Homo sapiens: one gene and its partners. The protein of the gene in region 2 purifies or fractionates together with the protein of the main gene of each other region. This does not show direct contact. Each region holds a gene or a part of one and is shown on either strand. Other genes may lie near its edges. The genes, in order: COPG2, COPB2, ARCN1 and COPZ1.

Region 1 (7,025 bases), on a different chromosome or scaffold from region 2:
GAGCTCCTCTTTCCAGCACCATTCCTTAAAATATTAGTTCTCTGTAAGATTTTGACTTCTCAACATCTACATTCCTCTTGGTGATCATTTTCAGAGCTCTGCTAATAGGCTGTGACATTCCAGTCATGTCTCTTTCCTGAACTTGTTTGTCCAAATAACTTAAAGCACTTCAAACTCAACCTGAAATTCAAACTAACCTCACATTCATCATCCACTCAGTTATCAAGATAGAATCTTGTTCTGCTGCCTTACAGCCCCTATCTGTTCTTTAGCAAAGCGCTTTCAATTGTGTCTCCTTAATATTTCTTCATTCTCTTCTATTTTCTTGGTGCTGATTGAGGCTGTCATCCGTTTCAGATCCCTAGCTATCTGACTGCTTCTAGACTCACATATATCCTGCCTATTCTTTACACTCTGCTAAAAAAAAAAGAAAAGGCGGGGGGGACTTTCAAATGTACAAATTTATCTCATATTTAATATCCTTTAATAATAATGTTGAGATTAAACCATACCCTAATTTTGTTTTATTGCCAGTCTCTCCCTTGTCTCTTCTTGCTCTCCAACATGGGTCCTTTGCTCAGCCTTGCCCAACTGTCCAGTAATACACCACACTTTCTTCTCTGGGCAGGGGCCATTCGAACGTGTTATTTTCTCTGCCTCTAATACTCTTATCCTGCCTTTTTCCTCTGGCTAACAGTACTTGGTCTTCAGATTTTAGCTCAAGTAATATGTATTAACTCTTTGTCTTAGTTTTCCACCACCAATTCGGATTTAGTTCCTTTCTGTGTATTCACATAGCATCCTGGATATATTTCTTCCATGGACTTACCTATGATGTCTTGTAATTGTCTCTCTACATACCTATCTTTCCCACTAGAGTGTAGCTCCTTGAGATCAGGGACATGTCTTTTATCTGTCCCAGTACCTAGCACAATTCCTGACAAAAGTTTGGTGAACAATGAATCTTTGTTGAATGAGAGGAATTTTAATAATAGAATTTCTTTTTATGCTTGGGGCTGGTTGTTTGAGATTAGAGCTTAATGACATCAGTGTGATATATAAGGGGTTGTGGTGGGGTGGAGATATAGCTCCTACAGAAAATCTATATGAATCTTTTTCCTCAATTTTTGGAAGATTTTCCTATTCAGAGCTCTCTTGGGCTTGCAGAATTCTATTTATGCTTAACAGTATCAAAGAAATAAGATCAAGAAACACTCAATAAAACAAGGGAGTTTATCTCCACTGAACATGGGGACACTTTTCTAATTTTTTTTCAAATGGTTATTGGTTAACTCTGAGAAACCAATATTTATGTACCATAATTGTATGCTTCATTATAGCTGCTGTGAGTGCTTTGGCTAAATTTGGGGCTCAGAATGAGAGTCTTCTCCCAAGCATCCTTGTACTCTTACAGAGGTAAGTTAAATAATGTCTTTTCTAAAAAAAAATAAGAATTCTATATGGTTAAACAGTGAAATCCTCATTCTACCATAGGGCGGATGCACTCTAAGCCCTAAGAGTAGAGTTATTGGAGCAAGTCAGGGGCAAATGGCAATTCCTTTCTCTTTTTAGTAATTATGTATACCTCCCAATCAATTTGATGTGCTATTGACTGATCACTTCATGAAAGCCCCTAGCCTTGGTTTACACAATAGCCTACATGTTTCCATCACTCCTCACTCTTATTTATAGAGCTTCTCTTCCCAGCCCCATTCCCTAAAATATTAGTTCTCCATAGGGTTTTATTTGCTAGGTACATGTCACATTTGATTTTGGCTTTCTCTCACATGATTTTGAGAAAGTGACTTAAATACATTTGCCTCAATTTGTACAACAGGGGCTTACTTAAAAAAACTGTTAGGTAATTCACTATGCAGAGTTAAAAATAATAGTTTTTCATTGTCTTCATGACTCTATTTGATGAGGAAAAGACTTGCTTTAGCAAACTGTGATTGCATCTTATAATTGAAGCAGATAAATTACAAGCCAAAGGTTGGCTAGTTTACGTAAAACAAATTGTCATTTGAGCAAAAACAGTGGCTGGATTTTGAATTTATCTTTTCAGTATCCTTGGAGAGTATAATACTCCCATTTCCTAATTACAGAGAAGTCTAAGTCTTCAACAGGGTCATGTAGTTACAGATGGAAGAAAAGACTCCAGACTGCTATTTCATGTTCTTGTGCTCCTCGTTATTTTAATGCCTACTTATGTAGTGCTTGTGATTCACAGTAGCAGTATTTCTTTAGTAATTCAGAGCAGTACCCAAGATTTGTGAAGACTTTAGGAGCCACTGTTGGCTATTGTTGAGCACTTTTTTAAAGGTAGTATCAGATGACGACCTGAGCTGTGTCCTTTAGATTTGGTAGTAGAGCTATTGGAAGTCTTTGGGGTACTGTGACATGACTATTCTGTTTCCCCTGGACAGGTGTATGATGGATACTGATGACGAGGTACGAGACAGAGCTACCTTCTATCTGAATGTGCTGCAGCAGAGGCAGATGGCACTAAATGCCACATATATCTTTAATGGTCAGTGAAAGCCAAGGATGTACACTTTTGTTCCTCAAATGGTGTCTTGGAAGCATATTTTATGATTTGCATATGAGCTAACTTCACTAGGCAAATGCTTGGTTTTTGTCTTTGAGTGCACTTCCATTTCTAGAGAAACCTGTGTTTATAGGATATTTTCTAATTTGGTAATGATAATTCCTATGCAGCAATCTATAAGAATATAGATTGGGCCCTTACATTTTTTAGGAACGTTGCTCACTTATTCCTGGTTCTCCTTGAACTCCCTCTTGGATGGGTTTACATTTTTCCCGTTTTCTTATGCTATCATTGTTCCCATATAGCTAAGTTGCTTTCTTTTCTGGGAGGTACATACATTTTGTTGAAAATGTGTATGCTATGCTCCCATGTTTCCTTGAATGAAATAAGTCAGTTTATAAGTTTATAAGGTAATTTCAAGAATATCCTTTATTTTTATATTTAGGTTATAAAGCTTTTGGTTATATTTTTCTCTTCCTTCAGAAAGCTTAGATAAATATTACAAACCTGGGCCTATTTGGATTCGAGGATTGGCAAGAGGTTATAATGCTGAGATTTCTCTATGTTTCACAGGTTTGACGGTCTCTGTACCAGGGATGGAAAAAGCCTTACACCAGTACACGTTGGAGCCTTCAGAAAAACCGTTTGACATGAAATCAATTCCTCTTGCTATGGCTCCTGTCTTTGAACAGAAAGCAGGTTCACTCTATTCATTTTTCTGTGTATAAGTAGTTTTGCAAAACTAAAAAATATTAGCATATTTTCTCTAATACTCATTTAATTGTCACTCTTTTTTTTTTTTTTTTTTTTTGAGATAGAGTCTCACTCCCGTCGCACAGGCTGGAGCACAGTGGCGCGATCTCTAGTCACTGCAACCTCTACCTCCCGGGTTCAAGCGAGTCTCCTTCCTCAGCCTTCCGAGTAGCTGGGATTACAGGCATGCGCCACCACACCTGGCTAATTTTTCTATTTTTAGTAGAGACTGGATTTCACCATGTTGGCCAGGTTGGTCTTGAACTCCTGACCTCAGGTGATCCACCCACCTCGGCCTCCCACAGTGCTAGGATTACAGGCGGGAGCCACCGTGCTCAGCCGATTGTCACCCCTTCTAAATCTTTTAGATTTAAGACATATTTTTATTAGAGTTTAAAAAAAACTCCTGGTTTTTACATAAAAGCAGTAAGATGAAATGCACTCCAAAATGAAGGGTTTTTTTTAATGCAAAGCATTACAGTATCTGAAGTCAGTTGCCACTGTGCATCTCAGAGCAGTAATAGTGCTGTCGCCTCCTATTTTTATTTTCTGAAGTTGATAATCTCTAAGTTAATTGATTTTGTTATTGGAGGTTCGTCTTAAAAGAATTTATGGGCGACAATCATAAAAAATATTCCCAAAGAATATCTAATCTTAAAACTTAAAAACAAAAACAAAAGAAGTCATAAATGTTTAGTGGTTAGAACACAAAACTGGGAAGAAACAATTTTATGCTTATTTTCAACATTTTCAGTTTTTCTGTTGATATAAGTAATTTTTCCTATTTTGATCATGAGAAGATTTTTAAAATAAATTGTTTTTCCTTTTCTGAGTAATTTTTGTACATTCCAGTCCATTTAAAGCAAACTCTATATTTTTAGGGCTTACTTTATGATTCCACAATATATGTTCACTAAATACATTTTAATTTGAGTGTCCCCCCACCAGAAGTGATAGATAACCTATAAGTATGATCTAGTAATAGCTCATTATATATCTGCTAGAAATGTCTGCTCTCCTCTCTTTCTGTCTGCATTGCTAGCTTGATAGTAGTGGGAGAAGTTCACTTACTTGCTCATATCTGTCTTTATAGAAATCACACTTGTGGCTACTAAGCCAGAGAAGTTGGCTCCTTCCAGGCAAGACATTTTCCAAGGTATGATGATTTGATGGTTAGACGTAATAATCTTTCCCCTAGGCATTGTAAATATAAAAAGTCTACCAGTCTTACTCAAATTGATCGGTTCTCAATATAGGAAATCTTCGTGTGGCTGAACACCATAGGGTATAGTTGCTGAGGCTACCTGGAGTCCATGAACTTTCCAGTTTGTAATTGCTAATTGGGAATGTTTTTCTTTTCTGTATCTCGTTGGTTAACAGGGAACTCATTGTAAAATAAGTATTTACTTTCTTTTTTTTTTTTTTTGCTTTTTGCTTTCATTAATATATAAGCTTACTTACTTGAAAGATGACTTCACTAAAACTTGGGGACATATTAGTTGAATGTTCAACTATTAGTAAGGCTATGGAAACTAAAGCATTTTTTTTTTTTGAGACAGAGTCTCGCTCTGTCACCCAGGCTGGAGTGCAGTGGCACAATACCGGCTCGCTGCAAGCTCTGCCTCCTAGGTTCACGCCATTCTCCTGCCTCAGCCTCCCGAGTAGCTGGGACTACAGGCGCCTGCCACCACGCCTGACTAATTTTTTTGTATTTTTAGTAGAGACGGGGTTTCACCATGTTAGCCAGGATGGTCTTAGCCAGGATGGTCTCGATCTCCTGACCTCGTGATCCGCCTGCCTCGGCCTCCCAAAGTGCTGGGATTACAGGCGTGAGCCACTGCTCCTGGCCAACTAAAGCATTTTTTAAGCATCCAGACTGAAGTCTTTCCCTGTCTTCTTCATAGCCTACGTTCTTTTTTCTTGATAGAACAATTGGCTGCCATTCCTGAGTTTCTGAATATAGGACCCTTGTTCAAGTCTTCTGAGCCTGTTCAACTTACAGAAGCAGAGACAGAATATTTTGTTCGATGTATCAAGCACATGTTTACCAATCACATCGTGTTCCAGGTAAGATAATGCCCTTGGCTGCTGTAGAGATTTAGTATAAACTGGTATGCTTTGAGACAAATATCCTTTACCTATAATTCTAGTTTCTATTATAGAGAATTAATTTGGCAGAATTTCTGGTTTTCTTGCTTAACACCAGAGCTATAGAGATCCCTTCATGTGATGGGTAACTTTTGATGGTTAAAATCTAAAGGACATAAAACTGAAATGTGTGATGAAGTTGGACAACATAAAGTATAACCAATTTTCTAAAATCAGCATTTAACATCAGGGTAGATTAAGTGGGCTATTCTGAGAACTTAGATTTGACAGCCATCAGACTTCTGCCATCTTGTTTGAGACAGCAGTCTCAGGAAAGAGAAAAAACTGATGAATAATATAAACAAAAGACCTCAAGAATAAGGCTCTCCCTGTTGCCAAAAGAAGAATCTTAGGAGGAGACCTACCCTGCTCTGTAGAGATAGAAGGTATAGTGGGTTCCAGAGCTGAGTAGTGGGTTATGAGTAGGAAGGATAACTTGTTATCCTTCACAGCTTTTCCATTTACTGACTTTTCAGTTTGACTGCACCAACACTCTCAATGACCAGCTGCTGGAAAAAGTGACAGTGCAGATGGAGCCATCAGATTCCTATGAAGTGCTGTCTTGTATCCCAGCCCCCAGCCTTCCTTATAACCAACCAGGAATATGTTACACTCTTGTTCGTTTGCCTGATGATGACCCTACAGCAGGTACTAACCCTCAGAAGGGAGGAGATACGTGATTCAGAATGCATTTCCTTGTGAGCTCTTCAACTCTTCAAATGCTCAGTTTAAGAATGTGATGCTTTTCTAGAATTTAATGATGAGTGTTTGTGTGTGTGTGTTTGTGTGTGTGTGAATATATATATTTATAAAATGGTTTACTGCTGCAGAAATATTAATTTTAAAACTAAATCTCTGAGTAAAATTTGCTGAACACTTAATCTTAAAAGAGAAACTGAGTGTGTATAGCAGTAGCACAAAAAGGAACTCAAGCTTTCTGTTGGAATAATGTGACCACTTGTGAGAGTTCATATACCTGGTCTCCTGTGAAGAATCTTGACCCTCTTCTCCTCAAAGTTTCTATCTAGTTAGATAGAACTTGGTTATGTAGTAGATTGTTGGCATTTTAAAATACATCATTTTTGAAGGTCCTGTAGCATAAGGCTGGTGTCTGAGAGCATGTCTCAGCCTAGTGAGTAGCTTAGCCAACCATGTGTGTCCACATTAAGAAGGGCTTTTAATTCCCTCCTTGACCCATATGCAGTCTTTGCAGGGTGGAGAAATAGCCCCTAAAAGACAGCCAACTAGTGCCAATAGTAGTATTTACTTATTTGGAGACTTGGGAAGGTGAATGTCAAGTATTTATTCTACTTGATTCCCCCCATCATCATTTTCCTCCTTGATTTCTTCTCTTCTCATGTTCAGTGCACAATATTCGTAACTGTTACCCAGTTTTCACAGAAATAAGCACACACATCACATTTATGTTTTGAACAACTTTTACTGCTCGTAAGTACAGGAGAAACAGAAGTTAAAAAATTAACAAATACTGGGAAAGTTACAGAGTTACAATAAATCATAAAAGCACTAGTAAATAGTTATCCCTGGTCATCATTCAGTTACATTTGGGGCTTAA
Region 2 (7,025 bases):
AAAGTGTTTTAATTTCGAATCTATTAAAAGATAGTTGGTCTTTTTTAAAAATTTGAATGTTGAGCTTTTATATTTTAGCCTGAGAATATACTAAAATGAGAAGTGATCTTAAAAATTGGATGTTTGAAATATAACAGAGTAGATTTTGTGGTTATTTTCTTATAGCTCAATTTGTGTATTCTTGTTACATTTTAAAGACACTGGTGAAGACATTTGAAGTATGTGATCTTCCTGTTCGAGCTGCAAAGTTTGTTGCAAGGAAGAATTGGGTTGTGACAGGAGCGGTAAGTAATTAATATGAATCTCTATTCCCATTTTCTGAATTGGTCAATGATTGTGTAAATTTGTTGCAGGATTTTGATTCCCGATTTGTTTTGTTATTTACAGCAATGTTTTGAGGCATAGACTTTATTCCTTGAGCCTGTGATATAGTTTTTTTGTATAATTTACTTGATAACAGGGATGATGGTTTTAAAATTTCTGTTTCTAGGATGACATGCAGATTAGAGTGTTCAATTACAATACTCTGGAGAGAGTTCATATGTTTGAAGCACACTCAGACTACATTCGCTGTATTGCTGTTCATCCAACCCAGCCTTTCATTCTAACTAGCAGTGGTAAGAGATGACCTTTTTTGGTCATGTGCGTCTCTTTGGGTAATTCATTTTCATTCACTGAGACATGCTATGCTTTAACTGCTGTTACAAATATAATTCTAATTCCAAGCGGCCTTTAAACTATTTAGATCCATTACTGTGCTATTGATGCTGCTTGTGTTTGTACTATAATGAAATATCAACTGTACTTAGGATTTGTGTAATGATTGCTCCAGTTCCTGTCAGAGAAGACCTACAAGTCTAGATGTTTAAACATCTGCTGAACAGAAAGGTCATTTACATGTTGATGAGTGAGTTTTTGGCAGATTGCCATAGACCCTATTCAGTTCAATCTTTATATTCAAACTAGTTTGCTCCTTGGTATTGTGTATAAATAGTAGACCTCTTGGAGGACTGGAAAAAGAGGTAGCACTGAATTAGTAATAGCTCTTTGAAATGTTTTTAAATTAAAAATTGAGAAGTAATTAAAAACTTTTTAAAAACCAATCTTGTGAGGGCAAATGCTTGTTCTCTACATAGTCATTGCTATCACTATTCAGTCATGCTTAGATCTAGTCAAACTTATATTACTCTTTGGCCATTCTTTAATGCCCACTGAATTTTTAAGTTTTTTCACAGAATTTTTATATTTTCTATTTCTAATCTATTTTATTTATTTTATCTCCACTTTTCTGTAGAGAGTTAAATTTATTTTTAAGATAAATAAGCATTTTGAAAACTCTATTTGGTTTTGATTCTATTTCTGTAAGTCATGGATTATATGGTTTGTGTTAGGTTTGCTTCTTCTAAAGACTGTGTCTTAGTTATGAAGTGAAAAAATAGAATTACAACTAACTTGAGACTTTCTTTTGGCCTAGATGACATGCTTATTAAGCTCTGGGACTGGGATAAAAAATGGTCTTGCTCACAAGTGTTTGAAGGACACACCCATTATGTTATGCAGATTGTGATCAACCCCAAAGATAACAATCAGTTTGCCAGTGCCTCTTTGGACAGGACTATCAAGGTAGGGCATCCACATTTTGTGTCAGTTATCATTATTAGTGAACTATACTTGCCTTAGGTGTTTTACTGTTGACTGGTCAGAAATGTACCCATCTTAAAAATTTTCCTCAAAAGCCTGTTTTGAAGTCAAAATAGGATTTCTCATTTTAATCCAAACGACATGTTCTGTTTAGAAAAATATTGTGGCAACTCAGTGCTCTTAATGAGGAGCGTTTTTCTGTGTGGAGGCAGCATGTTATAAAAATTTTTTAGCCTTTGGAAACCCAGAATAAGAAAAATGCCAATATCTTTTTAGGATACTACTGTCCTCTCCTTTTAGTATTCATTGTTGACTTCTGCTCATCGTTTATCTATTTTACATTTAAATTCCATATGCCTCTATTCTCTCTTTCTTACTCCATTTTACCACACTGCTGTCTGTTATCTTTCTGAAACAGTTCCTGATCTAAGGATAAAGTCCAAATGCCTTAGTGTGGAATACAAGGATTTCCAGGACTAGCCTGGGCTAATATTATGCGACATCTCCTAAAACCCTGGTCTACTCACCATCCTCTAGAGAGGCTATGAATGTTCACAAAACCTTACTTCATTGAACTGTTCCATCTTCCTGCACTTCTCTTTATTTTCCTATTTTGATATATTTTCCTCCGGAGAATTACTCAGCTTTTAAGGTTTAGCACAAATATTTACTCTTGAGAACCTCTTGTCAGACATCAACTTCACCTCTAGACAGAGCCAGTTATGCTTATCCCATTTCTTCCATTGCTTTTTGCCTCTGTTTCAGCCTTTCTCAGATTGAATTATTATTACACGTTTTTGGAAATCTTTATCCCCTGAAATACTGGATTTGGGGGATAGAAACTGTGTCACTCCCTTTCCCCAGCCATTCAATAGCAAACAGCAAAGTGCCTTACCTGACCTAGATGCTTAATACATGTTGCAGTGAGGGCAATCATGCTTCTTTTTTTTATCATAATATTTAAAATATTTCCATGCCAGGCACGGTGGCTCACGCCTGTAATCCCAGCACTTTGGGAGACCGAGGCAGGTGGATCACAAGGTCAGGAGATCGAGACCATCCTGGCTAACACGGTGAAACCCCGTCTCTACTAAAAATACAAAAAATTAGCTGGGTGTGGTGGCAGGCGCCTGTAGCCCCATCTACTCGGGAGGCTGAGGCAGGAGAATGGCATGAACCTGGGAGGCAGAGCTTGCAGTGAGCCGAGATTGCGCCACTGCGCTCCAACTTGGGGGACAGAGCGAGACTCCATCTCAAATAAATAAATAAATTAATTAATTAATTAAAATATTTCCATATGCATTGACTTAAAATAAATTAACTTTTGCTTACATGTTTGCTTTCACCTATATAAAACACTGTTAGTAGTTTTCCTTTATGTAAAATGTTATGTGTCTGAATATCTTAGGGTTTTAACCTTAGCTATTTTGCCTTTGATTGGATTATCCTTGCTTTTGACATAGATTAACTTTGAAATTAGTTGTAAACTTTTATTTTTACTAATTTAGGTTTATCTTGAGAACAATAATTGTCTTATCTTCAGTTCCAATAAAGTTTATTTTATACAGTAATTGATAAACATTTGTTACACGTTTATACTCCCCACAGGGCCTCCCATATAATAGGCACTCAATAAATATTTGTAAAGATAAAGCTTAATTCTGTGCTGTGGTAATTTTTAACAATTTTCTACACTTTAAATTGGTAATTAGGCAGTAATTTTCTCCTTTTAATAGGCCTTTATTTTTATTTATTTATTTATGTATTTTTGAGTTACGGTCTGTGTTGCCTAGGCTGGAGTGCAGTGGCATGATCACAGCTCACTGTAACCTCAAACTTCTGGGCTAAAGCGATCCTCCTGCCTCAGCCTCCTGAGTTGTTAGGACTACATGCGTGTGCCTTCATGCCCAGCTAATTTTTTACTTTTTACTTTTTTGTAGAGACAAGGTCTTGCTGTGTTGTCCAGGTTGGTCTTGAGCTCTTGGGCTCAAGTGATAACTTCCATCTCGGCCTCCTAAAGTGCTGGGATTACAGGTGTGAGCCACCACACCCAGCAACTTTTAATATATCTTACTAAATCTACTTTCATGAGCTGTATATTAAATCTATAATAAAATAATTTCATAACATCTAGATTCCTGGGCGTCACTGTGGATTGACTGACTTATAATCTCTAGAGATAAAGCCTGGAAATTGGCACTTCTTTTAAAGAACGCCATAGTGATTTTGCTCCCTGAAAATTCAAGTAAAATGAGAAAGAACAAAAACCAAACAGGATAAAAAATAAAATTTGATAGCTCTTCTCTCCTGGGCTTTGGCATTTTACATAATGTGTCAGAAATATGGTGGATTTGCCTTTTGTAAAGCAAGGCCCCATATTGACTGGCCGATGCTGTTTCTCTCTGCAGGTGTGGCAGTTGGGCTCTTCGTCACCAAACTTCACTTTGGAAGGACATGAGAAAGGCGTGAATTGCATTGATTACTACAGTGGTGGGGACAAGCCATACCTCATTTCAGGTGCAGATGACCGTCTTGTTAAAATATGGGATTATCAGGTACAGTTTTTCATAACCTTACTTCCATATGTTAGATATGTTTCTTACTATTTCTTATAGGACAGTTAAGACTTGGGTTGTTGAAAACTGTTCACAGCATAATAACTTAAGGTATCAGTATTTGCACCTAAACTGTGTTCCCAGAATTCTCCATAAAAATGAAAACAATGCATATCAAGATTTTAAAAATAAAATACCAACATGTTCATATTTCATTTCATAATTGCATTTAGAAATTTTAACATTTTAATGTTGAATTATCCTCCATAATCTTCATTGATAGACTTCTATTCATTTTTGTAAGCTAGCAGATCAACAATTACCAACCATTTTGCCAAATCGTACTCTTGTAAACCTAGTTATGAATTCTTGTTAACATGCTTCCTATCTCTAAGATTTTCTTATATTTTGATATTTTTGTTTTCCACATCAAAAGTTCCCATAAGCAATTAATAAAATGAGGTCTAGAAAGTCAGTTTTTCCTTGAAACATTTTCAGATTTGTACTTAAATCCAGAATAAAAATATTAAAGGCTAAAGCAGCACTGTCTACTTAGCCAGTGATGGTAGGTGTGAGTTTTAAGGGGGAAATCTATTATCCTGAGAATTTGGGGGAATAATATTCAGACAAAAGCCTTCTTGGGTTTTTTTCCCCTTCTTTAAATGTGATAGTTACATTTACATTTATTTTACAAAGTAATTAGATAAAATATTCATATATACAACAAGATCATCCTATTTCAAAAATTTCTATATTGGATATTATTTAGATTTTCATGACTACTATCATTTATAATGTATCTGTACACTGAGAAAATTAAGGGCGGGCTGGTTACATGTTTTTCATTAATAAAACATGTTTTCTATGTCTTAATTACAGAATAAAACATGTGTGCAGACACTGGAAGGACATGCCCAAAATGTGTCTTGTGCCAGCTTTCATCCTGAGTTGCCAATCATTATCACAGGTTCAGAAGATGGTAAGTTAGAAGGGTATGTTTATTCCTGTGCTAGTAACTACTCAGTGGGCATTTAAAGCAAGTAATGTCTCTGCATTATAATTGTAGGTTTCCAAGGATTTTGATATTTTTATTAAAGTACCAGACTTAAGCTATAAAAGAGTAAAGGGGCATTATTTTCATCATCATCATCATCATCATCATCATCATCGTCATCATTCTCATGTATTTTGATTCTGTCACTTAAATAAGAGGACCGTCAGCTGTCCTAAAGAGAAACTGAAAAAGCATGTGCTTTGGAGTCAAACAAACCTGGGTTCAAAATCAGGCTCTGTTATGTCATGAATGTGTGTTTGGGCAAATTATGAAATGGAAACATATATATCTGCTTCATAAAATTATAGTGAGAAGAAATTGTGGGTAGAAAGCATCTGGCACATAGGAAACACTTTACCCAGGAAATCCTGTTATTATTTCATGTTTAAAATCGTAATTCTTAGTTTTTGTTTCTTATATGTTATGTGTTATGTTTATGTTGCTTTTAAAAATCATTTAAAGACAGTAGGTCAAAAAATTGGTCATTAAGCTGCCAGGAAGTGTTATCTGTTTGAATAGAAAGACTTCTATGGGTCTCTTTCACCTGACACAGTTTATTGTCGGATGTTTGTATCAAAAGGGAGTATTTACATTGTTCTTTTTAGGAACAGTACGTATTTGGCATTCAAGCACCTACCGGCTTGAGAGCACACTGAATTATGGAATGGAGAGGGTATGGTGCGTGGCCAGTCTAAGAGGGTCAAACAATGTCGCTTTGGGCTATGATGAAGGGAGCATCATTGTTAAGGTAATTATACTATCCCTCTCAGTAGGTGGACATAGGCAAAACCATTTTCTTTGTATTTTAGTACTGTCATCTTCCAAGTAACCAGTTTTATAAAACTGGCACTTCTTTCATTAAGCACTAGACATTAAGCAATGAAGATTTAAAGTGGAAGAAAGGAAATGGAGCTCTCTGTTAGGTGAAAAAAATAATCTGTTTTGTTTTGGTTTTATTCATTTTCCTTTTCATTGCTGAGAGCTATTTTTCTTTCTTTCAGCTTGGTCGGGAGGAACCTGCCATGTCCATGGATGCCAATGGAAAGATAATTTGGGCCAAGCATTCAGAAGTCCAGCAGGCCAACCTAAAAGCAATGGGAGATGCTGAAATTAAAGATGGTGAAAGATTGCCACTGGCAGTAAAGGATATGGGCAGTTGTGAAATATACCCTCAGACTATTCAGCACAATCCTAATGGGCGGTAAGCCATCACCAAAATTGTCCCTCAGCTTCTGTGTATGTTAGAACAGGTTTGCAGATCCACAGTCCACTCTTGCCCTGTGGTTGGCATCTCTAATCATTCCTCAATGTGCTTTTGCCCTGGCCTCACAATCCTCAACACAGCTGCAGTCAGCCATGCCACTTGATCAAGTTGGCACAAAAGATGGAGCATGTTTCCCATCTGGACTTGTTCTATACCACACAATTTTGAATAGTTAAATAGTAGTTTCCTGTTATTTCGCATGCATTGAGTTTGTGTTTTTGTGTGCTCCTTTGAGGGCAAGGAGTATGTCTTATGCTGAGACTTAGTAGGTGCCCTCTCTAAATGCTTGCTGACTCATTGCTCTTTCAAGAAGAAAACCTGACTCTGAGATATGTGTCTTTTGAAAAAGTTTTGGGATTGATAATAATTCTGTTTCTTATTTGTAATTCGAACTGTCAGTTGAATTTCTCCCTTAAGATTTGTAAGTCACCAAACATCTTGTGAGAGAGGAGTTTCTAGCACAGTGAAGTCTAAACCTGTGGAGCTTTAAAATTATTTTACAGCAGGTCTG
Region 3 (7,025 bases), on a different chromosome or scaffold from region 2:
CTCATGCCTGTAATCCCAGCACTTCGGGACGCCAAGATAGGCAGATCACCTGAGGTCAGGAGTTCGAGACCAGCCTGGCCAACATGGTGAAACCCCGTACAAAAATTAGCCAGGCATGGCGATGCACATCTGTAATCTCAACTACTCGGGAGGCTGAGGCCAGAAAATTGCTTGAACCTGGGAGGTGGAGGTTGCAGTGAGCCGAGATTGCACCATTGCACCACTGCACTCCAGCCAGGGCAAGAGCGAGACTCCGTCTTTAAAAAAAAAAGAATCAGGGTCTTGCTGTGTTGCCCACACTAAAGTATAATGCCTGTGCACTTGAACTCCTGGCCTCAAGCAATCCTTCTGCCTCAGCCTCCTGAGTAGCTTGGACTACAGGCACATGCTACCGCACCTGGCCTTAGCCTTCATTTTAAGCAAGACTTTGGCATAAAGTCTTAAAAGGTGTGTGTGTGTGTGTGTGTGTGTGTGTGTCTGTCTGTCTGTCTGTCTCTGGATCAGTAAGTCTTACCTAAGTCTTCATTTTAAGCAAGACTTTGGCATAAAGTCTTAGAAGAGGGGTGTGTGTGTGTGTGTCTGTCTCTGGATCAGTAAGTCTTACCTAAAAAACATTACCTAAAAAGCATAGCCAAACAAGTGTCAGAACTAGAACGGCAGATTAGAACAACTGCTTAAGAACTGGGAAATGAAACAGTAGTTCCCATATTCTTTTGAGACATCTATAGTCTAAGAGGACACCCAATAAATGTCTGCTGAATAAACAAGGTGCTGCAGCAATAAGTCGCTGGGGTGCGGAGTAGGAACCTGCAAACTGGTTAGCATCAGCTGCTTTGGAGGAAAAACTAGTTTCACATAAAATGTAAAACAAAAAGTGGAACCCAGTATTATAGCAGTACTCTTACCACTCTTGAGAAGAGCCTTAGGGTCTCCAAATCTTCTAAAATGTTGCTGTTTTTGGTAGTGATCAGTACCATATACAGTTTCTCCATAGGCTGGTAGACATATCTTACACTCTCTGTTTCAACAAACGTATGTTGTTTTCCAGTGTTCATGAGCTTTGGAAAAGCTGCTAATAAGCCCTCAATCCGAGTTCGGGTCATTTCCACAAACTGTCGAGAAACAATAGCCTTTCCTGCTTTTGTGCAGACCGCTGCTGCCAACAGCACCTGCCAGGAACATATGCATAAGTAAGTACTAATTATTTCTTCACATCTGTTTTCTCAGCATCTCAGGAAATGTTCCATAGAATGACATATTTATTTAGTGACATGACTAGTAGTAGTATTATTTTTAAGACAGGGTCTCACTCTGTCACCCATGCCGGAGTGCAATGGCAAGACCACAGCTCACTACAACCTCAAACTCCTGGGCTCAAGAAATCCTGAGTGGCTGGGACTACAAGTGTGTGCCACCAAGCCTCGCTAATTTTTAAAAAGCTTTTAGTAGAGACAGTATCTCGCTATGTTTCCCAGGCTGGTCTTGAACTCCTGGGTTCAAGCGATCCTCCTGCCTTGGCCTCCCAAAGTGCTGGGATTATAGGCGTGAACTACCACGACCAGCTGACATGACAAGTAATAGAATACTGACTTTCACGGGCACAGTGGCTCACACCTGTAAACTCAGCACTTTGGGAGGCCAAAGCGAGTGGATTACTTGAGGTCAGGAGTTCGAGACCAGCCTGACCAACATGGTGAAACCCCATCTCTACTAAAAATACAAACACATTAAGAGACTTAGACATGTCAATCAATCACAATGTATAAATCAAATTTGAACAGTGACTGAATAATTGATAATATTAAAAATTATTGCTAATTTTTTAGGTGTGAAAATATGCTATCATGGTAATATATTTTTATGTAAGGAATACTTATATATTTTTAAAAAAGAGTTGTGTAGTTTTGAATCCTTCCATAGTCTCTCATATTAAAGGTGCTCCCTCAATGACTTTATATTGAACTAAAATAATTGTCTGGGATACATCTTATCTTCAAACTACGCTAGTTTTGCATGTAGTACTAACAAAAGGTCACTGGATTTAGTAATTATCCTGAGGATCAGAATTCACAATTTCTTTCTTTTTTTTTGGAGACAGGGTCTCACTTTGTCACCTAAGCTGGACTGTAATGGTGCAATCTTGGCTCACCGTAGCCTCAACTTCTGGGCTTGAACAATCCTCCTGCCTCAGCCCCCTGAAAGGAGCTGGGACTATAGGCAGGTGCCATCATGCCTGGCAAATTTTTGTATTTTCGGTAGAAGTGGGGTTTCACCATGTTGCCCAGGCTGGTCTTGAACTTCTGGACTCAAGTGATCAGCCCACCTTGGCCTCCCAAAGTGCTGGGATTACAAGCATGAGTCACCACGCCTAGCCAGAACTCACAATTTCATGTGTTGAATATCAGTTACAAAATATTCCTTTTAAAAGCAACTATCCTAATATTATATAAATGGGTTTTTATGACTTGGGATAAAATTTCCCAAACTGCCAATATATCACACATGGATTCAAAACTGCTAAATACCAAACTGATGATTCAAAAAGTGGCCCCAGTGATGACATGATGTTCATAAAGAATCTAGAAAAAATTGTTTTATTAATATGAAAATGGAAAAAAGTAATTATTTCTAAATTAAACTTTATTTATTTAAAACATATACATATAAGTGAATTATTAACTATTTTAAGAACATATTTGACTATTTTTGCTACCTTTTTTTTTTTTAAGATGGAGTTTTGCTCTTGTTGCCCAGGCTGGAGTGCAATGGCAAGATCTCCGCTCACTGAAACCTCCACCTCCCAGGTTCAAGTGATTCTCCTGTCTCAGCCTCCCGAGTAGCTGGGATTACAGGCGCCTGCCACCACGCCCGGCTAATTTTTTTTTTTTTTTTTGTATTTCTAGTAGAGATGGGGTTTCACCATGTTGGTTGGCCAGGCTGGTCTCAAATGCCTGACCTCGGGTGATCTGCCCACCTCGGCCTCCCAAAGTGCTGAGATTACAGGCATGAGCCACCGCCCGGCCTATTTTGGCTGCATTTTAAAAAGTTTATACAATTGGCAAAAAGCTTTCCTTCTTAATAGTTTCATCAGAAAAGTAGGGAATTCCCTTATATTTGGGATCATTTCACATTGGTTTCTCCTTTTCCTAAAGACTTAGAACTAGTGTCCCAAATTTGCAAAGAACCAAGCTGATATTAGAAAAACTAAATGACTGGGAGTGAGAAAATCTATTTTCTAGTTTTGTTCTTCTATTTACTATCTGCCTGACCTTCAGTTACCCAACCTCTCTTAACCTCGTTTCTTTTCCTATAAAATGCAGCATTATCTAATGACCTTACAAGCTATTATGAGGGCCAAATGACTATAATGAAACTGTACTTCAGAAGTGCTATACAACTTGTAGCACATATATTCATGATGTAAAACAGCACCATTAGTAATAATAAACATGCATCTCATGAAAAAAATTTATGCCACTTCAAGGTAATGGATTTTTCTTTTTTTATTAAAAAAAAAAAAAAAAAAAAAAAAAAAAAAAAGAGAGACGGGGTTTTGCCATGTTGCCCAGGCTACAAATTCCTGGGCTAAAGTGATCCGCACACCTCAGCCTCCCAAAGTGCTGGGATTACAAGTGTGAGCCACAGCATCCGGCCAAGGCAATGGATTTTTGCCTTTGTCAATATTTTGATATTCAAATAATGAATATTGACTCTCCCCCCAAAATTTTACATACAGTTTCAGGGAATGCATCGATCCTCTAGAGAAGTTATTTCAAATGGCCCATAGAAAATCCCCTCATGCGATGAGAAATATTATTAATAAATGGGAGCATATTGTAAATGTAATCCCTGTAGAGCCTCCTATCCCTAAAAGGTTGAGAGTCATAGCTCTAGGAAGTCATGGTCCTCTATGTTAGAATTTTATGAGGTTTTGAAGAAATAAGACAAATCAAATGAACACCTAAAGAAAGGACAGCTCAGACCAAAACTTCAGACCTATATAAACATGCTGCATTTAATAGAAACCCCATATCTAATAATAAACCTGTTAGAAACAATGTTTACAGGCTCAAGGGTAGTTCTTAGGTTTCCAACTGGAGTTAAAAACACCTCTATACCATACAAGTAAAATTTAGGTAAAAACATCAAAAGCAACTTGAGAGGGAAAAAGGAACAAAAAGGTGTATGTTACTATCCACTTTATTTATTTATTTATTTATTTATTTATTTATTTATTTATTTATTTATTTTTTGAGAGAGTGTCTCACTCTGTAGTCCAGGCTGGAGTGCAGTGGTGCCATCTTGGCTCACTGCAAGCTCTGCCTCCTGAGTTCAAGCAATTCTCATGCCTCAGCCTCCTGAGTAACTGGGACTACAGGCACAGGCCAGCACCACCAAGCCTGGCTAATTTTTCTATTTTTAATAGAGACAGGGTTTTGCCATGTTGGGCAGGCTGGTCTCCAACTCCTGGCCTCAAGTCATCTGCGCGCCTTGGCCTCCAAAGTGTTGGGATTACAGGAGTGAGCCACTGCACCTGGCCCATCCACTTTACTGATGAGCATGTTCAAAAACTAATTATAGGTACTGGTAATCTCCATTTTTGCGATATTATAAGAATTAACTGAGTAATTATTTATCGAACATCTACTATACATACAACATGCTTTCTGAGAATTAAGATGACACAGGCTAGCATTCTGCCTACAAGAAGCTTAATAGGGATAAGACACAAACACAAATAACTGTAATATGAGGCAGAATGTGTTAAGTAACATGAGAGAGTAACCGATAAAGTGCGTGGAAATTCAGAGGAAGAGATTACTTCCAGCTGGTACAGTCAGGGATGACTTGATAGAAGAAACAGCATTTAGGCCGGGAGCGGTGGCTCATGCCTTAATCCAGCACTTTGGGAGCCAGGGCAGGCAGATCACCTGAGGTCAGGAGTTCGAGACCAGCCTGGTCAACATGGGAAAACCCTGTCTCTACCAAAAAATACAAAAAATTAGCCAAGTCTGGTGGTGCACGTCTGTAGTCCCAGCTACGGGGAGAGTGAGGTGGGAGGATTGCTTGAACCTGGGAGGCGGAAGTTGCAGTAAGCCAAGATCATACCACTTCACTCCAGCCTGGGCTACAAAGTGAGACTCTGCCTCAAAAAAAAAAAAGAAAGAAAGAAAGAAAGAAACAGAATTTAGATCATGCTTTGATGAATTCCAGGATTTGTTTGTTTTGAAACAGAGTCTTGCTCTATTGCCCAAGCTGTAGTGCAGTGGCGTGATCTTGGCTCAGTGCAGCCTCAACCTTCTGGGCTCAGGTGATTCTCCCACCTCAGCCTCCCAAGTATCTGGGACTACAGGCACAGGCCACCACACCTGGCTAATTTTTTGTATTTTTCTGTAGAGACAGGGTTTTGCCATGTTGCCCAGGCTGGTCTCAAACTCCCAACCTCAAGTGATCTGCCCGCCTGAGCCTCCCAAAGTGCTGGGATTACAGGCATGAGCCGCCACACCTGGCCAGAATTCCAGGCTTTCAGTACGTCAAGATGAAGAAAGAAGTAGGGTAAAATCATATGTCTCTCTTTGAGTCATTCCATTATCCAGATACAAGCAAAACAAGGCTTCCAAAATAGGACCATAGTTCCCCATACTAAGTATAGCATAAATCTCCGAACACCCAGGACACCACAAATTACAGGTTCCAGGCAGTTGACACAGGTCTCTCTGTTACAGCTACTAATATGGCTAGAAGGTATGGTCACCTCTAAACATGATAAATTTATCCTATCCTAAATTAACATTTGTCTTCTTAAAGTTCTTGAAATAATAAACCTCTTTACATTAATGTTTACTGGTTTAACAATTATTAAAATATAGCATATACTAAAAGGTAAGTTAACAATTTTCCCTATTGAAATTTGATCTGATTTTCTCTGAGGAAGAATTAATAAATATGATTACAAAGTTTTTGGTTTTTTTTTTTTTTTTTTTTTTTAACATTTTTGGAAAAAACATTCCAGATCTAAAAGGAACTTGCAAGAGCCCTTGATTGTCTTACAGATGTGAAAACTGAGGGCCCATAAGTTAGATGATCTCTCCAGGACGGTTAAAAAAAAAAAAAATTCCCTCATAAAGTTGAGCTTTGCCAAACAACTTTTAATAATTCTTACATGGTTTGAGTACACTATCTTTGGACTAAATAACAACTCTCTCCTACACAGACTTAACTACATGAATTGTTAAGTGCCTCAAGTAAAAAAACCTGGAGAATTAGGTTTCTGTTCTGCCTTTGCCACTAATTATGTGACCTTGGATAAGTCACTTAATTGATTATTGAAATATCCCTAACATAGGAGGTTAGTTTACATGAAATCCAAAGTGCTCTGTGTCTTTAAAGTTCTGTAAGTCTAAGCATTTGAAAACTACAGTAACAGAAAAAAAAAAAAACAACTACAGTGACAGAAAATGTACAATACTTCCATTTTATACCCACTGCTCCAGTTCTAACCACTTTGGAACAATATTTTATAGTAACATTAGGCTGCCAGAAGGCAAATTGTCTAACCATAACAAATTGTGTGTGCAAGAGAGATACAAGAATAACAGGTGGTATAATAATTCAGGATAAATATGCACAACTCTCTCTCAAAAAAAGTCAAGTTCTTTCTTGAATCTCTAAATGCTTCAGGATCCCTTACTTCCAGAATTATAGTCACCTTCTCCTTTGTAATTCACCGCAATATTTTATACACATATACATGCACACACAATTCATGGTCATATTAAGGCTAGTTTCTATAATTGTCAGGGAGGACTGTTCTGTCTTTTCTATTTATATGAAGCTATTATAGATAAAATCAGAGAGAAGATTACAATAAAATGTAGACCACATACGAAACCTAAAACTTGAAAAGTAATTTACTCAGTGAGGGTTTTAAGTCCATCACATTTCTATTCTAAAACAAAAGCTTGCAGAGAATTAAAACACACACACACACACACACACACACCCGTTATCAGTTTCTGCAGTGA
Region 4 (7,362 bases), on a different chromosome or scaffold from region 2:
CCAGCTATTTTTTTTTGTATTTTTAGTAGAGACATGGTTTCACCATGTTGGCCAGGCTGGTTTCGAACTCCTGACCTCAAGTGATCCGCCCACCTCAGCCTCCCAAAGTGCTAGGATTACAGGCATGAGCCACTGCACTGCGCCCGACAGAGATACTTTCACATATAACTCCCCCAGCTTACCCACTACACACAGGCCCATTGTTAAAAGGGCTCCCCAATTATTATCTTCCTCATTCCTTTACCTTTAAGCAGGCTCCCTTCTAAACATATATAGGTAAGTCTAAAAACTTCCAAAAAAACCAATTCCCTAGAATCTATCCTAGTCTGCTAATTGGGTTTAGGGGGAGGTTTTTTATTCTTATTTTTTTAGAGACAGGGTCTGGCTTTGTCACCCATGCTGGAGTGCAGTGGCACAATCATAGCTCACTGCAGCCTCAAACTCCCAGGCTCAAGCGATCCTCCTGCCTCAGCCTCTTACAGTGCTGGGATTACAGGCATGAGCCACTGCACTCAACCTCTTGATTAAGAATACTTGCTGCCGGGCACGGTGGCTCACTCCTATAATCCTAGCACTTTGGGAGGCTGAGGCAGGTGGATTGCCTGAGCTCAAGAGTTCAAGACCAGCCTGGGCAACACAGTGAAACCGTCTCTACTAAAATACAAAAAAGTTAGCCAGGTGTGGCAGCACGTGCCTGTAGTCCCAGCTACTCGTGAGGCTGAGGCAGGAGAAATTGCTTCAACCCAGGAGGCAGAGGTTGCAGTGAGGTGAGATCACACCACTGCACTCCAGCCTGGGTGACACAGCGAGACTCTGTTTCCAAAAAAAAAAAAAAAAACTTGCTAACTGGCCGGGGTGCAGTGACTCACACCTGTAATCCCAGCACTTTGGGAGGCCAAGGCAGGCAGATCACTTGAGGTCAGGAGTTCAAGACTAGACCAGCCTGGCAAACATGGAGAAACCCTGTTTCTACTAAAAATACAAAAATTAGCTGGGCATGGTGGCGCGTGCCTGTAACCCCAGCTACTCAGGAAGCTGAGGCATGAGAATTGCTTGATTCTGGGAGGCGGAGGTTGCAGTGAGCCAAGATTGCACCACTGCACCCCAGCCTGGGCAACACAGCCAGACTCTATCTCAAAAAAAAAAAAAAAAAAAAAAAAAAAAAAAAAAAAAGAATACTTGTTAACTGCTTGGTACAGAAAATATTTAAAACTACTCAGATTTTAAGCTTTTTACCTATATTTGACCAACCGACATAAGGAATTAACTGTCTTTAACTGAAAGAGAGGAATTAAAACCTGTTATTCTTTTATCTGATGAGGATCTGAATGTGTATGCTTAGGAGATCTGAAGGAAAATAAAAGACAAGCTTCTTTGGAAAGAGGCCTAGAGTTCAAGCCAATTAAGGAAGAAGGCTGGGAGTTAAATTCCTACACTATACTACCTACCTACCTACACACACACACACACACACACACACACACACACACACACCCCTCCAAATCGCAAAATAGGGCACTTTTGAGAGAAATTCTCTGGTCCAGTTCTAAAAAGGGGTAACAGGTATTTTATTTGTTAGAACAAGCATAAAGCATCATATGGACAAGAGGGCTAATACAGCCCTTTAGCGACCACAATTCTCATGTAACCAGAGAGGGAGAAATTAGCATCCTAGATCATACAATAAGAATTCCTGGCCCGGCGCAGTGGCTCACGCCTGTAATCCCAGCACTTTGGGAGGCCGAGGCGGGTGGATTACGAGGTCAGGAGATCGAGACCATCCTGGCTAACACGGTGAAACTCCGTCTCTACTAAAAAATACAAAAAATTAGCCGGGAGTGGTGGCGAGCGCCTGTAGTCCCAGCCACTCCGGAGGCTGAGGCAGAAGAATGGCGTGAACCCGGGAGGCGGAGCTTGCAGTGAGCCGAGATCGTACCACTGCACTCCAGCCTGGGCGACAGAGTGAGACTCCGTCTCAAAAATAATAATAATAATAATAATAATAATAATTCCTGGCCAGGCGCGGTGGTTCAAGCCTGTAATCCTAGCACTTTGGGAGGCCGAGGCGGGCGGATCACTTGAGGTCAGGAGTTCGAAACCAGCCTGGCCAACATGGTGAAACCACGTCTCTACTAAAAATACAAAAAAAATAGCCGGGCGTGGTGGCACGCGCCTATAGTCCCAACTACGCGGGAGGCTGAGGCAAGAGAATAGCTTGAACCCGGGAGGTGGAGATTGCAGTGAGCCAAGATCGCGCCACGTGCGCACTCCAGCCTGGGTGACAGAGCAAGGCTCGGTCTCAAAAAAAAAAAAAAAAAAAAAGAATTCCTAAGGTCTAAATGGGTAGAGAAAAGGAGAACAGAATAAGGAGTCTAGAAAAAATATTCCACAATCCATGCTAACTTTATCAGGTATCCCAGAACTTTGATGGAATACTGATTATTTGACAAACCTATATAATAGGGATTAACAGGAAACCGAAGACAAAACAGTTTCCTGAAGGAATGTGGCAGGGAATCGGCAATGGAGAGTCAAACTTGGGAAACCATCAGGAGGAGTCTGTAACGACAAAACATCTGTATTCTTTTCTTACAATATGGGGCGAGTTTGGTGGTTTGGTAAATTAAAATCAGGGTATCATCCACAATGCTAAAAATAAGGGGCAACCTGAAGGGTCCTAATCCAGTACGCCTACAGGTCTGTGTATCCTAAGGAGTCCATGTGCTGCCTTCAACTTTCCACCGACTCTATGCCCTCTCCCCGGCAGGGCTTCCTACTCTAAACCAAGGCTTTAGCTCCTACACTAGGCCACACACTTATTCCAAAGGTCAGCAGAACGCTCAGTCCCCAAGAATTACCCGGAACTCTCTTTCCCCGTCTCCCACTCGGGCTGAACCCTGACTCCCGGCCCCTGTGGACACCACAGCATCTCTGCTGCCCCTCCAGCTCCTACCAAAATCAGCGCCTCCATCTTGCCCCGCAGCTGGTGCCGACGTGGAGCCGCAAAAGAAACGCCGCCGCTGATTGGCCATACGTTCCCATTAGGCCCCGCCTAGGATAAGGATCATTGGGTAAGGCTTGCTTTATTGGCCAATTATTGTACTAGCTTGCTTACCGGAAGCAAAGTGTCCAACCAGAAGGCTCAGGTGTTTGATTGTCAGCTTGAATACTCAATAAAACGCCAAAACCTCACGACTCATTGGGGCGGGAGGGTTAGTGGGGCGGGGTTGTTTCCATGGGGAACAGAAGAAGCGATTGTTAATTTTCAATTGGTAGGGCCGAGGACACGTGATATTGTCGGACTGATTTAGCGATTTTTAAACCGCACCCTCTTTAGGGGGCGCTGTGTCTCCTTAGCCTTTAACACTGGCGCTTTCTAACCGGAATCCTGCCCTAATCCCTATTTTCAGCGCCCGCATTAGGTCCATGATCTCTGTGGCTAGCCCTTCCCTCATGCTCGCTCAGGTCACTTCAGCATCCTCACAGAAAGTCTGCACAACCATAGAGTAGAGCCAAGAAAGGCCCAACATGTTAACTACATAAACCAAGGCTGCCAGGAGTTGATAGTCGCAATAACAATCTCCCTAAGGTGGAGTTCCAGGCTTTGCTGGGCCTGAGGAACATGAGAAGTCAGTTTGTAAAGGCCAACTTGAGCTCAACGTGAAATCGGCTTTGGAGATGGGGTTTGCGGGACAAACGGGGAAAGGGATGGGATTAGAATAAGAGAGGGGTTATAGGGAGTAAATTCTGGGGTTTTCCAATAGAAACAAGCCGTTGTGCCTGGGCGCGGTGGCTCAAGCCTGTAATCCCAGCACTTTGGGAGGCCGAGGCGAGCGGATCATCTGAGGTCGGGAGTTTGAAACCAACCTGACCAACATGGAGAAACCCCGTCTCTACTAAAAAAAAAAAATACAGGCCGAGCGTGATGGCTCACACCTGTAATCCCAGTACTTTGGGAGGCCGAGGCGGGCGGATCACGAGATCAGGAGATCAAGACCATCCTGACTAACATAGTGAAACCCCGTCTCTACTAAAAATACAAAAAATTAGCCGGGCGTGGGTGGCGGGCGCCTGTAGTCCCTGCTACTCTGGAGGCTGAGGCAGGACAATGGCGTGAACCCAGGAGGCGGAGTTTGCAGTGAGCTGAGATCGCGCCACTGCACTCCAACCTGGGTGACAGAGCGAGACTCCGTCTCAAAAAATATACATATATACAAAATTAGCCGGGCGTGGTGGAACATGCCTGTAATCCCAGCTACTCGGGAGGCTGAACCAGGAGACTCACTTGAACCTGGGAGGCGGAGGTTGAGGTGAGGCGAGATCTCGTCATTGCACTCCAGCCTGGGCAACAAGAGCGAAATTCCATCTCAAAAAAAAAAGAAAAGAAAAGAAAAGGAGAAGAGAAGAGAAAAGAAAAGGAGAAAGAAAGAAAAGAAAGAAAGAAAGGAAGGAAGGAAGGAAGGAAGGAAAGAAAGAAAGAAAGAAAGAAAGAAAGAAAGAAAGAAAGAAAGAGAAGGAAAGAAAGGAGAGGAAAGAAATGAGGCGTTGCAAAATGAGAAAAGAGAAGTTTACTGAATGCAAGAATTTCACAATAGGGAATGATTTTGATGAAGCTTGGCTTTCCCCTATCCCTTGGTTTCCTGATCCCTGACTCCTCTTAGGGCAGGGACACCTATTACCTTAATTATCCTAAAGGGATTTTTTCCCTCATCTCTGAAAATTATATCCTTAGGAGCCCTCCAAGAAGAGATTCCAAACTTACCCAGGAATTTTTCTTTTTTGAGACGGAGTCTCGCTCTGTCCCCCAGGCTGGAGTGCAGTGGCTCAATCTCGGCTCACTGCAAGCTCCGCCTCCCGGGTTCACGCCATTCTCCTGCCTCAGCCTCCAGAGTAGCTGGGACCACAGGCGCCCACCACCACGCCTGGCTGATTTTTTGTATTTTTAGTAGAGACGGGGTTTCACCGTGTTAGCCAGGATGGTCTCCATCTCCTGACCTCGTGATCCGCCCGCCTCGGCCTCCCAGAGTGCTGGGATTACAGGCGTGAGCCACTGCTGCACCCGGCCTTTTTTTTTTTTTTTTTTTTTTTAAGACGGAGTCTCTCTCTGTCGCCAGGCTGGAGTGCAGTGGTGTGATTTTGGCTCACTGTAACCTCCGCCTCCCGGTTGCAAGCGATTCTCCCTGCCACCTCAGCCTCCCTTGTAGCTGGGATTACAGGCGCCTGCCACCCCTGGCTAATTTTTGTACTTTTAGTAGAGACGGGGTTTCGCCATACTGGCCAGGCTGGTCTCGAACTCCGGACCTCAGATGATCCACCCGCCTTGGCCTCCCAAAGTGCTGGGATTACAGGCGTGAGCCACCGGGCCCAGCCACCCAGGAATTTTTCTAATAGTCGGAGTAGAATCAAGGAAACATAAAACAATACAATACAAGGGCGCTGTGGCATGTGCCTGTAGTACCAATTACCCCAGGGGCTGAGGCAGGAGGATGCTTGAGCCCAAGAGTTCGAGGCCGTAGTGCGCAGTGATTGTGCCTGGGAATAGCCACTGCATTCCAGCCTCGACAACACAGGGAGACCCAGTCTGTATATAAAAATAAGATAAAATAAAAAATTGAACAATACAATGCAAATTATAGACCTACAGTGTACTCTGACAGAAGGTGAATTTCTGGTGGAATACCAGGTGTTAAGCCTTATATCTGGAAGAAGTGAAGGCTTGTCCTTTTATTCCTCAAGGAGAGTTGTTCACACATTTACTGTGCCTGGCATCACAGTCAGTGGGTTGTCATTGGCTTTGCAGCTTAAAGGTAATACTAACATTTACTGCCCACTTATTATGTGCCAGGCACGGTGCTAAATCTTTAAATACATTATTGAATACATTTTTTAAAATCCTTATGAAGTAGCTGGGCATGGTGGCTCATGCCTGTAATCCCAAAACTTTGGGAGGCTGAGGCAGGCAGATCACCTGAGGCCGGGAGTTCGAGACCAGACTAGCCAACATGGTGAAACCCCGTCTCTACTAAAAATACAAAGATTAGCTAGGTGTGGTGGCAGGTGCCTGTAATCCCAACTACTCCGGAGGCTAAGGCAGGAGAATCTCTTGAACCCGGGAGGTGGAGGTTGCAATGAGCGAGATCCTGCCATTGCACTCCAGCATGGGCAACAAGAGCAAAACTCTGTCTCAAAAAAAAAAAAAAAAAAAATTCCTGGCCGGGTGCGGTGGCTCACACCTGCAATCTCAGCACTTTGGGAGACCGAGGCGGGTGGATCACGAGGTCAGGAGTTTAAGACCAGCCTGGCCAAGATGGTGAAACCCCGTCTCTACTAAAAATACAAAAAATTAGCCGGGCGCGGTGGCAGGCACCTGAAATCCCAGCTACTTGGTAGGCTGAGGCAGGAGAATCGCTTGAACTCAGAGGGCAGAGGTTGCAGTAGCCGACATTGCATGCTACACTCCAGCCTGGGTGACAGAGTGAGACTCCGTCTCAAAAAAAACAAATAAAATAAAAAATCCTTACGAAGTAGATGATTATTAAACCCATTTTACAGATGAGCAACATGGAGTTTAGAGCAGTTAAATAATTTACTTAAGGCTACAGAACTGTTTTAGCAGCCATACGTTTGAGCACAGGAGACTCTAAACCATGTTCTTACCCACAGTCCACTCCTCTAGTTTGTTGTACTGCCTCTCTTGCATCCCAGTCCTACCTCAAGGACTCTACCTCAGTGCCAGATATTCTACAAGGACCATAAGGAGGAAAAAGTGTGGTATGGTTGGTTCATGGGGATGGTTGGCTCCTTTTTCTGTGTAGTAACTGACAAATTTTAAGTCAGATATTGTTGCAGAAGATCGCTTGATTCTTAGCTCTCCAGCCTGTTGGGGTAATTGTGCTGTGGGAGGAAGACAATTGACTGAATTAGAGACATTAGTTATTGTTGTGACTTTGCTTTAATCAGTGAGAGAACTCTGCAAGTCTCTGTACCCTCTCTGGATGGACTATAGCTGTCACTTCTGGAAAGGGGAGAGGTTCAGACCAGAGCTTTCTAGGGCCCTAGCTAACTTTTTTTTTTTTGGAGATGGAGTCTCGCTCTTGTTGCCCAGGCTGGAGTGCAATGGCACACTGTCGGCTCACCGCAACCTCTGCTTCCCAGGGTTCAAGTGATTCTCCTGCCTCAGCCTCCCGAGTAGCTGGGATTACAGGCTTGTGCCACCAGGCCCAGCTAATTTTGTATTTTTTTAGTAGAGACGGGGTTTCTCCATGTTGGTCAGGCTGGTCTCGAACTCCCAACCTCAGGTTATCTGGCTGCCTCGGCCTCCCAAAGTGCTGGGATTACAGGCGTGAGCCACCACACCCGGCC

The links.
Region 1: the proteins of COPB2 (region 2) and COPG2 fractionate together in Homo sapiens (co-fractionation; 4 studies listed by BioGRID and IntAct, with this or other methods). This does not show direct contact.
Region 3: the proteins of COPB2 (region 2) and ARCN1 fractionate together in Homo sapiens (co-fractionation; 5 studies listed by BioGRID and IntAct, with this or other methods). This does not show direct contact.
Region 4: the proteins of COPB2 (region 2) and COPZ1 fractionate together in Homo sapiens (co-fractionation; 6 studies listed by BioGRID and IntAct, with this or other methods). This does not show direct contact.

What each region holds. Positions count from the first base shown.
Region 1 is NC_000007.14:130,546,746-130,553,770, reverse strand, and holds part of COPG2 (coatomer subunit gamma-2), read left to right. Parts: intron 1-1,340; coding exon 1,341-1,416; intron 1,417-2,426; coding exon 2,427-2,530; intron 2,531-3,121; coding exon 3,122-3,247; intron 3,248-4,394; coding exon 4,395-4,457; intron 4,458-5,228; coding exon 5,229-5,368; intron 5,369-5,925; coding exon 5,926-6,097; coding exon of another isoform or gene 6,098-6,129; exon of another isoform or gene 6,130-7,025. UniProt on the Homo sapiens protein: The coatomer is a cytosolic protein complex that binds to dilysine motifs and reversibly associates with Golgi non-clathrin-coated vesicles, which further mediate biosynthetic protein transport from the ER, via the Golgi up to the trans Golgi network.
Region 2 is NC_000003.12:139,372,639-139,379,663, reverse strand, and holds part of COPB2 (coatomer subunit beta'), read left to right. Parts: intron 1-197; coding exon 198-284; intron 285-490; coding exon 491-617; intron 618-1,474; coding exon 1,475-1,623; intron 1,624-4,049; coding exon 4,050-4,196; intron 4,197-5,075; coding exon 5,076-5,175; intron 5,176-5,855; coding exon 5,856-5,998; intron 5,999-6,251; coding exon 6,252-6,451; intron 6,452-7,025. UniProt on the Homo sapiens protein: The coatomer is a cytosolic protein complex that binds to dilysine motifs and reversibly associates with Golgi non-clathrin-coated vesicles, which further mediate biosynthetic protein transport from the ER, via the Golgi up to the trans Golgi network.
Region 3 is NC_000011.10:118,575,390-118,582,414, reverse strand, and holds part of ARCN1 (coatomer subunit delta), read right to left. Parts: exon of another isoform or gene 5,517-7,025; intron 1,170-5,516; coding exon 906-1,169; intron 1-905. UniProt on the Homo sapiens protein: Component of the coatomer, a cytosolic protein complex that binds to dilysine motifs and reversibly associates with Golgi non-clathrin-coated vesicles, which further mediate biosynthetic protein transport from the ER, via the Golgi up to the trans Golgi network.
Region 4 is NC_000012.12:54,320,773-54,328,134, reverse strand, and holds the start of COPZ1 (coatomer subunit zeta-1), read right to left. Parts: upstream 3,005-7,362; 5' UTR 2,972-3,004; coding exon 2,954-2,971; intron 1-2,953. UniProt on the Homo sapiens protein: The coatomer is a cytosolic protein complex that binds to dilysine motifs and reversibly associates with Golgi non-clathrin-coated vesicles, which further mediate biosynthetic protein transport from the ER, via the Golgi up to the trans Golgi network.